Linked DNA regions of Homo sapiens. The protein of the gene in region 1 purifies or fractionates together with the protein of each later gene. This does not show direct contact. Each region holds a gene or a part of one and is shown in the gene's direction. Other genes may lie near its edges.

What was found.
Region 2: the proteins of NPIPB6 (region 1) and NCS1 purify together in Homo sapiens (affinity purification with mass spectrometry; one large-scale study listed by BioGRID and IntAct). This does not show direct contact.
Region 3: the proteins of NPIPB6 (region 1) and RGPD5 purify together in Homo sapiens (affinity purification with mass spectrometry, with the first as the bait; one large-scale study listed by BioGRID). This does not show direct contact.

Annotation. Positions count from the first base shown.
Region 1 is NC_000016.10:28,360,618-28,364,892, reverse strand, and holds the start of NPIPB6 (nuclear pore complex-interacting protein family member B6), read left to right. Parts: upstream 1-1,384; 5' UTR 1,385-1,870; intron 1,871-2,032; 5' UTR 2,033-2,070; coding exon 2,071-2,190; intron 2,191-4,275.
Region 2 is NC_000009.12:130,220,765-130,224,416, forward strand, and holds part of NCS1 (neuronal calcium sensor 1), read left to right. Parts: intron 1-1,885; coding exon 1,886-1,974; intron 1,975-2,317; coding exon 2,318-2,395; intron 2,396-3,652. UniProt on the Homo sapiens protein: Neuronal calcium sensor, regulator of G protein-coupled receptor phosphorylation in a calcium dependent manner. Directly regulates GRK1 (RHOK), but not GRK2 to GRK5. Can substitute for calmodulin. Stimulates PI4KB kinase activity.
Region 3 is NC_000002.12:109,825,203-109,828,854, forward strand, and holds part of RGPD5 (RANBP2-like and GRIP domain-containing protein 5/6), read left to right. Parts: intron 1-673; coding exon 674-832; intron 833-1,098; coding exon 1,099-1,236; intron 1,237-1,498; coding exon 1,499-1,645; intron 1,646-2,589; coding exon 2,590-2,769; intron 2,770-2,862; coding exon 2,863-2,946; intron 2,947-3,652.

The DNA of each region.
Region 1 (4,275 bases):
GGTTGCCGTGGCTCTCGTTGGCGCCCAGCGCCGCGCCCGGGGCTTCATGGCTGTGTCGCTGCTGCCCCCTCCCAGGGCCGCAGGGCCCGGGTTCCACTTGGCGGCGTCTTCTCGCGAGTCGCTTTCGCTGCTCCAAGAAGTCGGCGGTGCAGCAACTGACGCCGCTGCTGCTCCGGTCGCCGCAGGTCGCCATATTCCTCGCGGGGGCCGGCCGGGCTCTCGGCTCAGGCCGCCCACCCTGCTCCGGCCGCCGCCGCCTCTCCGTTCCCGCAGCCAGAGGAGGCGAGGGAGCGACCTCCAGGCACTGGGCGCCCGCCGCTTCCCCAGCAGCCGGCGGGGCGGGGAAGAAAGACGCCAGGAAGCGGAAGGCCCCCGCCGGCCCGAGGGTCGCCCGGGGCTGTGCCCCATGGTTCCTGGCCCGCGAGCAGCTGCTGGGACCCCCCCTTGCCAAGTTGCTCCCCGAAAAGCTCTAAGGTTCTCAGGCCTGCAGGGAGTGACAGTTTCCCCCTGACTGTAACGTAAGGCTGCAAACTCGAAGCCAGGAATTTTCTGCATATTCTTAAATAGGATGTTTCAGTCAAAGCCTTGATAATATAACCAATCTTTCTGATTGTAGCCTGCTTATAAAGAGAACATATGTACATGAAAATAAGAATATTTATGAATAGTTTCCAAACTTTAGAAGGATCAGATAGGGAGGAAAAACAAACGCTTCCACCCACCTTTGTTCACAAAAGTGTGCTTTACCAAATCGGTGTAAATTCTAGATAACTTCTGAGAAAAACCTTTCTTCAATCTAGAAAACAAAACAAGGGCCGGGCGCGGCGGCTCAAGCCTGTAATCCCAGCACTTTGGGAGGCCCAGGCAGGGGGTGATCACCTGAAATCGAGAGTTGGAGACCAGCCTGGCCAACATGGTGAAACCCCGGTCTCTGCTACAAATACAAAAACTAGCTGGGCGTGGTGGCGGGCGCCTGTAATCCCAGCTACTCGGGAGGGTGAGGCAGGAGAATTGCTTGAACTGAGCGGAGATCCTGCCACTGCACTCCAGCCTGGGTGACAGAGTGAGACTCTGTCTCAAAATAAAAATAAAGAATGAATCAACAATGTTTTAAATACCAGTTATAAAAACATTATCGTAATAGATTTTTTTGTTTTGCTTGATCTCGCTTAGCAGTTTTTTGAACCATTTTTTCCTTATTAGAAACCACTAGAAATTGGTTTTTAGTTCATTGATTTTTGTTTATTTTTATTTTTATTTCTGAGACACAGTCTCAGTCTGTCGCCCAGGCTGGAGTGCAGTGGCACAATTTTGGCTCACTGCAACCTCTGCCTCCCAGGTTCAAGCAATTCTCATGCCTCAGCCTCCCGAGTAGCTGGGATTGTGTGCCAAATCATTCACCCCTCACCACAACCGAATGAGCTAAGGATTCTCATTATATATAGTTTATGGAGAGGGAAGTGCAGACATAAAGAGGTGAATTGTCTTACCCAGATCACACAGCTGATAAGTGGTGGAGGCAGAATAGAATCTAAACAGTGTGGCTCCGGAGCCCACATGCATTGATTCGACAAGTGTTTATTGAGCACCTGCCACGGACAAGGCCTTGTGTGATTAAATAGGGTTATAATTAGTAATATAAAAATGAGAAATCACTAATGCTTTTTAGACTTAACATTTTCTTTTTTTGTAGGTTTCAGGCACAGAACTGTATATCCAATAATAGTGAAATGGATCCCACTAATTATGACAGAAATGATGATACATTTAAATGACTTGGATGTTTTATAGGTATGATCTCGTGAAACCTTGAGAGAAACTGAATGACGAATGAAACTATTGTTCCTGTTTCACACAGAAGAAAACTGAGGTTAAAAGGGGTAAAGTAATTTTGCATGGCATGAAGTAGAAATTCAAAGTACAGGAATTTGAACTTGGTTCTGTCCTTTTCTGAAGCCCTTGACCACTATAGACTCAAACATCACCTTGTTTTTCCACTCATTCAACACTATTTTTTTAAATTATCTAATAGGTTGGCACTCATGATGAGCCCCTGTTCTCATTCTGCAAATGGTGAAGCTCTCTATTGTCCTGACCCCACAGTTCCTGTCGCATGACCAGAGCCAGCTCACCAAGGAGCTGCAGCAGCATGTAAAGTCAGTGACATGCCCATGCGAGTACCTGAGGAAGGTGAGTGAGTGCAGACAGATGGGGCCTGGTGCCCTTGAGCAGTTCCCGGGTCTCAGCTGCCACACATCTCATAGCGGGTGATGCTGGGGGAAGCTTACGCAGTCACAGTACTGGCTTCTTCCTCTTTTTCTTTCCATACAAGTGGCTTAGGGATGGGGTAGAGTAGTTGACTTATTTGGATGAAAACCACTATCTTCTGTCAGAAACTCAAAAGGAATCATTGCTGGCATGGTAACCTAAAGAAAAACAACCAGACAAGTGCCCAACAACACTTAAAAAGGTTATTTATTATCTTGCCAAGTTTAGGCTGGGCATGGTGACTCATGCCTGTAATCCCAGCATTTTGGGAGGCTGAGGCTGGTGGATCACCTGAGGCCAGGACTTCAAGACCAGCCTGACCAATATGGCAAAACCTCGTCCCTACTAAAAATACAAAAATTAGCCGGGCATGGTGGTGTGAGCCTGTAGTCCCAGCTACTCAGGAGGCTGAGACAGGAGAATTGCTTAGATTCAGGAGGTGGAGGTTTTAGTGGGCCGAGATCATGCCATTGCACTCCAGACTGTGCGACAGAGCGAGACTCTGTCAAAAAAAAAAAAAAATTATCCTGCAAAATTTGAAAAGGAAATTCAAATCAACAGCTTCTAAACTACTTTTTAACATGACTCATAATAAGAAATACATTCTATAGTACATATATATGTTCTATAATTTTGAATAAAAGAATTAACCACATCACATTTATTTTACAACATGTAATACATATTTTTTATTCTCCTTCATTTGTTTTGAATGCTCTGTGCAGTCTACAAAAAGTCCAATAGTAATAATTAAATTAGTCATTAAGTTGAACATTATCTTGTCTTTTAAAATGATAATCTCAAAAATGATCTTTTATTTTTGAGATTTATATAGATACACACACACACACACATACACACACACACACACACACACACACACACACACACACATATAGAGAGAGAGACAGAGTTTCACTCTGTCGCCCAGGCTGGAGTGCAGTGGCACAACCTTGGCTCACTGCAACCTCTGTCTCCCGGGTTCAAGCAATTCCTCTGCCTCAGCCTCTGAGTAGCTGGGACTACAGGTGTGCACCATCATGCCCAGCTAATTTTTGTATTCTTAGTAGAGATGGGGTTTCACCATATTGGCCAGGCTCGTGTCAACTCCTGACCTCGTAATCTGCCCACCGTGGCCTCCCAAAGTGCTGGGACTATAGGTGTGAGCCACTGCACCCGGTCCAAGATAAAATTATTTTAACAATATACTATGAAGAGAAAAACACTGGCTATGAAAGAATATGCATAGTTTTACCCTGTTTAAAAATAAAGATTGAAAGAATACATATGCAAATAAGTTTACTTTTATTTTTGGTAATACTTTACTGGATTGTCTGAATATTGACAATCAGTATGCATCATGAAGCTACATGGCTAACATTGAGTACTGACTGTGTGTGCCAGGCCCTGGGTTCAATGCTCTACATGCACTTATATTTCATTTAATTCTCTCTGCAACCTGAGATGGTATAGCCACCTCATTTTACAGAGTTGAAACTGAGGCTCAGAGACTGAAAGTTAAGCCTGAGGTTACAGTCAATAAGAGGCAGAGCTGGAACTGAAACCTACGTGTGTCTGACCACCAGTTCCTGTTCTGACGGCAGGCTAGTCTGCATCACAGAGTGTGGGGTAGATGGTGCATGCCTGCTAGGATGGGCTAGGTATCACTGTAGGTAAGAAACAGCCCCAAACGATGGAAATGTACACCACTGAAGGCTCTTTTCCTGCCCATGCTGCACATCCTCCATGGCTCTCCTGTGCCCTGTGCCCCACATGCCCTCATCCTGCCACGAGAATAAAGGAGCAGCCTCCATATGGGAGCTGTCAGCTGCTCTAAGAGATGAAGGAGAGGGTGGCCAGTCTCAATGGCTCCCAACTCTTTTGCCTCGAGGTGACACGCTTCACTTCCACTCACATCTCTTGGGTCAAAGCAAATCCCATGGGTACATCCACTTTCAAGTGGCCCAAGAGAGAACCTGAAATACTTGGTGGACTCCATTAAGGCTG
Region 2 (3,652 bases), on another chromosome or scaffold:
TTTAAGAAATAAAAGAGAACTTTATTTATGCAAAAGCTCCTCCTCTCAATGCACTATTTTATTTTCTAATGTTGACTGTAGCAGGCCACACCATAATTGTGGGAGCAGAGTGGACTGTGGGGAGGAGGTGGGGGCTGGAGTTGGGGGAAGGAGAGGGGTGCTCCTCTGGGTAACATCCCAGGCCCCGGGCTCTCCCACGCACTCAGCTCCAGCCACTGATACCTCGGCCCTGGCAGCCCAATGCCCCATCCCTTTATTTTATTTGTTTATTTATTTATAGACAGAGTCTCGCTCTGTTGCTCAGGCTGGAGTGCAGTGGCACAATCTCGGCCCACTACAATCTCTGCCTCCTGGGTTCAAGCAATTCTCCTGCTTCAGCCTCCCAAGTAGCTGGGATTACAGGCATGTGCCACCACACCTGGCTAATTTTTGTGTTTTTAGTAGAAATGGGGTTTCGCCATGTTGGCCAGGCTGGTCTCGAACTCCTGACCTCAGATGATCCACCCACCTTGGCCTTCCAAAGTGCTGGAATTACAGGTGTGAGCCACCGTGCCTGGCCCTGTTATTTTTAATATATATATATATAAAATATTTAATATATATATAAAATATCATATATATATATATATATATATATATATATATATATAGAGAGAGAGAGAGAGAGAGAGAGAGAGAGAGAGAGAGAAAGAGAGAGTCTTGCTCTGTCACCCAGGCTAGAGTGCAGTAGTTCGATCTCGGCTTATTGCAACCTTCGCCTCCTGGGCTCAAGCCATCCTCTCACCTCCTCCCAAGTAGCTGGAACTACAGGCGCCCGCCACCACACCTGGCTAATTTTTGTATTTTTAGTAGAGAAGGGGTTTCATCCTGTTGGCCAGGCTGTTCTCCAACTCCTGACCTCAGGTGATCTGCCCGCCTCGGCCTCCCAAAGTGCTGGGATTATAGGGGTGAGTCACTGTGCCTGGCCCTGTTATTTTTAATTTATAAATAAATAAATATATATATACACATAAATATAAATTATGTATATATAAATATATATACATAAATATAAATTATGTATATATAAATATATATACATAAATATAAATTATGTATATATAAATATATATACATAATACATAAATATAAATTATGTATATATAAATATATATACATAAATATAAATTATGTATATATAAATATATATACATAAATATAAATTATGTATATAAATATATATACATAAATATAAATTATGTATATAAATATATATACATAAATATAAATTATGTATCTATAAATATATATACATAAATATAAATTATGTATCTATAAATATATATATGTGTGTGTGTATATATATATACGTATATATATATGTGTATATATATATACGTATATATATATGTATATACAGAGAGAGAGAGGGAGAGAGACTTGCTCTGTCACCCAGGCTGGAGTGCAGTGGCTTGATCTCGGCTTATTGCAAACTTCGCCTCCTGGGCTCAAGCCATCCTCCCACCTCAACCTCCCAAGTAGCTGGAACTACAGGCACCGCCACCAGGCCTGGCTAATTTTTGTATTTTTGTAGAGACGGGGTTTTGCCATGTTGTCCAGGCTGGTCTCGAACTCCTGGGCTCAAGCAGTCTGCTCACCTCAGCCTCCCAAAGTCCTGGGATTACAGGTGTGAGCCACCATGCCCAGCCTTATTTTTTTTAACCCTAGTTGCAATGGTGTGTGTGTGTCTGTCCCTGTCTATCCTGATGTAAATATTAGTTGACCTGATGAGGAATGGGCCATCCGGTCGCTGACTTCATGTTGGGGTACAGAGAGGAGGGGCGAGTTGAAGACCCCTCCCCACTGCCCCAGCCCAGGATCACTCAGCAGTGCTGCTTGCTTACAGGGGCCTTCAAGCTCTACGACTTGGACAATGATGGCTACATCACCAGGAATGAGATGCTGGACATTGTGGATGCCATTTACCAGATGGTGGTGAGAAGCCGGGTCTCGTGTGGTTAGGGGTGGCAGGAGGGGCAAAGCCAGTGACTGAGAGACAGAGAGAGAGCACTTGTGCAGCCATGCTCCTGCCCAGGGTGGAAGCAGGGGTCACTGGCTGAGCCGTTCTGTACATCTCTGCCTGGGCAGGCAGGCACAAGCTGGTAGATAGTGGGGCTGGGGTGTGGGATGTTCCAGGGCACAATGGCAGGGATGGGGAGGGGAAAGAAGAGGGGGGCGGCCCTCATCTGGAAACTGCCAGGTCTGGGGGGCAAATGCGTGGCCAAGAGCCCAAAGCCCAGAGTGCCAGGGCCCACCCCCGCCTTGTCCGTCCCTGCAGGGGAATACCGTGGAGCTCCCAGAGGAGGAGAACACTCCTGAGAAGAGGGTGGACCGGATCTTTGCCATGATGGATAAGGTGAGGTGGGGGGGCGGGGCTGGTCCTGGACCAGGGAGGCAAGGTGTCGGGGGCAGGAATTGGAGTCCCTGGATCCTGGGCCTGGCTTTGCTGCCAACCTCCTCCATGGCTCACGGCAGGCGGCACGGTGTCCTATCCCTGCTCAGCAGCTAGCCCCATCCAGTGTCCAGAGTCTTAAGTCAGTTTGCTCAGCATGTTTTCTTTAATCAACCAGAGTCCTTAGCCTTTTTTTTTTGTTTGCCATGGACCCCTTTGGCATTCTGGAGAAGCCTACAGACTTCTCAGCATAATGGCTTTAAGCGCATAAAATAAAATCCATAAGATCAAAAAGGAAGCTGATTATTTTAGAAAACAGCTGTCAGAGTATTTTAAAAAAAGAATCTGTGATGTAGCGTTCTGTGAGCTGCTTTCTTAACGCATTCACTAAGATGTAGTGGTGGGTCCAGCAACCCCCGAAATTGCGAGCTGTAATATCTGCAGCAACTAGGGTGTGTTATGAAAATACCTGTGATCCCTACTGTCGACAGATCACAGGTACTGCAGGTCCTGTTGGGGACCGTCGCCTAGGTTTCCATCAAAGGAAAAGCTACATTTCAGTTAGAGGTTAGTAAAAAAAGGCTGATTTTTTTTCCCCCAAGTTCATAGACCTGCTGACTTCTATCCACAGGCCCAAGGTTAAGAAACCCTTCTCTTTTTTTTTGAGACAGAATCTTCGCCCTGTCACCCAGGCTGGAGTGCAGTGGCGGGCGCGATCTCGGCTCACTGCAAGCTCTGCCGCCTGGGTTCACGCAACTCTCCTGCCTCAGCCTCCCGAGTAGCTGGGACTACAGGCGCATGCCACCATACCTGGCTAATTTTTTGTATTTTTAGTAGAGACGGGATTTCACCGTGTTAGCCAGGATGGTCTCGATCTCCTGACTTCGTGATCCACCAGCCTCGGCCTCCCAAAGTGCTGGGATTATAGGCGTGAGCCACCGTGCCTGGCCAAGAAACCCTTCTTTAAAGGGAACCAAAGCCAGGTGTGGTGGCTCACACCTGTAATCCCAGCATTTTGGGAGGCCGAGGCGGGTGAATCACCTGAGGTCAGGAGTTCGAGACCAGCCTGGCCAACATGGTGAATCCCTTTCTCTACTAAAAAAAAAAAAAAAAAAAAATCCGGGAGGCAGCAGTTGCAGTGAGTGGAGATCGCGCCATTGCACTCCAGCCTGGGCAACAGAGTGAGACGCAGTCTCAAAAAAAAAAAAAAAAATTATCCAG
Region 3 (3,652 bases), on another chromosome or scaffold:
ATTATTCAGCCTGAAAATTAAAAAAAAAATTAGCACAAGGCTTTGTAGGTAAGACCATTATAGATCTTTCTAAATATTTAAGGTGTGTTTTGTGTCACCATTAGGTGTAGATGGTCAGCCTTTTGAACAAACTGACACTACAGAAGAGGCAGGTTTCAGCTATCTAAAAAGGACAACTGTTAAAAAGTAGTTTGGATTGCTACGTTAGAGTGGTATCATTAGAAGCATTTAAAAGTTGAGTGTAGAGGCCGGGTGCGGTGGCTCACACCTGTAATCCCAGCACGTTAGGAGGCCGAGGCGGGCAGATCACAAGGTCAGGAGGTCGAGATCATTCCTGGCTAACACGGTGAAACCCCGTCTCTGCTAAAAATACAAAAAAAAACTCTACTAAAACTACAAAATTAGCCAGACATGGTGGCAGGTGCCTGTAATCCCAGCTACTTGGGAAGCTGAGGCAGGAGAATTGCTTGAACCTGCACGGCAGAGGTTGCAGTGAGTTCACTGGTATTAAGGTGGTTTAGTTATTACAGTATTTGGAAGTTGAACAAATGACTATTGAGGTACCATTTGGTTTTGACTTGAAATTTTAGCCAGTTCTTACAACTTGTAAATGAACTTTAGATCTAATCATGCGTGTTCCTTAAAGTTGTGTGCTTTTAACTTTCTTTTTTAGGGCAGCGGTCTTAATTCTTTTTATGGTCAACTAGAATACATAGGGAGAAGTGTTCATTATTGGAAGAAAGTTTTGCCATTGTTGAAGATAATAAAGAAGAACAGTATTCCTGAACCTATTGATCCTCTGTTTAAACATTTTCATAGTGTAGACATTCAGGTAACAGAGTTCCTTTATGAATTTATTGGAGATGGGAATTTCCAGTTTATAAACAAAGACGTGGAGCTATAAACTGCTTAAATTAATTGCCTTGTTATTTAACGGTAATCTTGTTTTCTAAATTCACTAGCTCTCACAGATAAGATATGACAGAGAAGAGTAATGAGATGTTTGTCTCTTAAGATCATATAAAATCTTTGGAAAATCATTTGGGTTTTATATTCTGAGTATAAACAATTTGACTAAAAACTATTCTATGTGTTTAGGCATCAGAAATTGTTGAATATGAAGAAGACGCACACATAACTTTTGCTATGTTGGATGCAGTAAATGGAAATATAGAAGATGCTGTGACTGCTTTTGAATCTATAAAAAGTGTTGTTTCTTATTGGAATCTTGCACTGGTAAGTAGATGCAGTACTTGAGCTAAAAGTTGTATTTATTTATTTATTATTTTTTTTAAAAGACGGGGTTTCTCTGTTGGCCAGGCTAGAGTGCAGTGGCACAATCTTGGCTCACTGCAACCTCTGCTTCCCAGGCTCAAGCGATTCTTGTGCCTCAGCTCCCGAGTTGCTGGGATTACAGGCATGAGCCACCATGCGTGGCCAAGCTGAAAGTTTTTTGTTTTAAAAAGCTAATGATTTCATGAAAGCACTATTTGTATAGATTTTTCACAGGAAGGCAGAAGACATTGAAAATGATGCCCTTTCTCCTGAAGAACAAGAAGAATGCAGAAATTATCTGACAAAGACCAGGGACTACCTAATAAAGATTATAGATGACGGTGATTCAAATCTTTCAGTGGTCAAGAAAGTAAGTAGCAGGTTGTTGTATGTACGTTCTTACTGATAACCCACTGGTCAGTGTTTTTGCGTTGGTCTTATATTTTGGTAATTTCAAAAATACTCAGTAATATGTTGTTATTAATGCACAGAAGGGATGCGTGTGTCTAAATGCTTAGATTTGCTTGCTTTGTCTTAGGTTTGGTGTGTCTTTTTAAACTTGGGAATCTAGGTATATGCTCTTAAAAAGTACTTCTTGGGGAATTAGAAAAGATTTCTAAGATAAGACATTGATTTTGTTATCTTAGCAGTGTAATCAAAACAAATATTATAACCTCAGGACTAATTCTTAATGAACTTTGCTGAAATTGAAAGTTGTTGCTGACAACTTAAGAGCATTTCTTCTCATCGTCATCAGCCATTATGAACGCCCTTGTTTTCTTGCTGTCAGCTGTTTGAGATTGTCATGATGATGTTAAATTATGTTCAGTCTTCTGAGTGTTTTGTTGATTAATTTGTGTTACTACTCTTTTATTAGGATTTATGTTGTCTGGTGTATTGTAGCATCTGTATTTCTGTCACCATTGAAAATCAGTTAGAAAACATCAGTAACTTATTTTGTTCACTTGGAAAAGCTTTCCAAGTTAACATTCCTCTACAATTATCATGGTTAACAGAAGTAATAGAAAGAGCATGGACTTTAGAATCAGAAGATGTTAGACTGTACAACACTTTTCTGTGTTCCTGAAGAAAAAAATAGAATAAAGACAAAAAAATAAAAATAATAATACAAAACAACAGAAAAACAAAGAAAAAAGATAATTAAAAAACACTTTCACGTGTATTATTATTTAAAGTGTAAAGTGCTTATTAAAGTGACAAAAATGTAAATAAGATAAAATATATCATTTTAGAGTTTTTACTTTTGGAATTTTTTGCAAATGAAAGCCCTTAATTAATGTCTTTTATTTTTAGTTGCCTGTGCCCCTGGAGTCTGTAAAACAGATGCTTAATTCAGTCATGCAGGAACTCGAAGACTATAGTGAAGGAGGTCCTCTCTATAAAAATGGTTCTTTGCGAAATGCAGATTCAGAAATAAAACATTCTACACCGTCTCCTACCAAATATTCACTATCACCAAGTAAAAGTTACAAGGTAAACAGGAAAGAATGGAATCATTTCATTGTGAAATTGTTTCTGTTCTAAGTGTTTTAAATGCTGTTTTGTTATTTTTATTTTTTTTTTCAGTATTCTCCCGAAACACCACCTCGATGGACAGAAGATCGGAATTCTTTACTGAATATGATTTGCCAACAAGTAGAGGCCATTAAGGTAAGTCACTTAATTTCTCTAGCTGTACTTTTTATTCCAAGATTCCTTCCCTGGCTACTCTCTCACTTTTTTTCTGAAGCTGGTCAGAATGTCCCCTTGCCATCCAAATAGTATGGCAAGGGGACATTTTGGTCTTTTTTTTTTTTTTTTAAGACAAGGGTCTTGTTCTGTTGTGCAGGCTGGAGTACAGTGGTATGATCACAGCTTACTGCGGCTTCAACCTCCTAGCTCAAGAGAGCCTCTTGGCTCAGCCTGCCACGAAGCCAGGACTACAGACAGTCACATGCCACCAGGCCCAGCTAATTGTTGTATTTTTTGTAGAGATGGGATTTTGCCATGTTGCCCAGGGTGGCCTTGAACTCCTGGCTCAAACAATCCTCCTGCTTCAGCCTCCCAAAGTGCTGGGATTGCAGGTGTGAGCCACTGTGCCCAGCCTACATACCTCGGTCTTGACCCTTTACCATATTTTGTTTTGTTTTGTTTTGAGATGGAGTCTCACTCTGTTGCCCAGTCTGGAGTGCAATGGTGTGATCTTGGCTCACTGCAACCTCCACCTCCCAGGTTCAAGTGACTCTCCTGCCTCAGCCTCCCGAGTAGCTGGGATTACAGGCACCCGCCACCAGGCCCAGCTAATTTTTGTATTTTTAGTAGACACAGAGTTTCACCATGTTGGCCAGGCTGGTTTTGAACTTCTGACCTCAGGTGA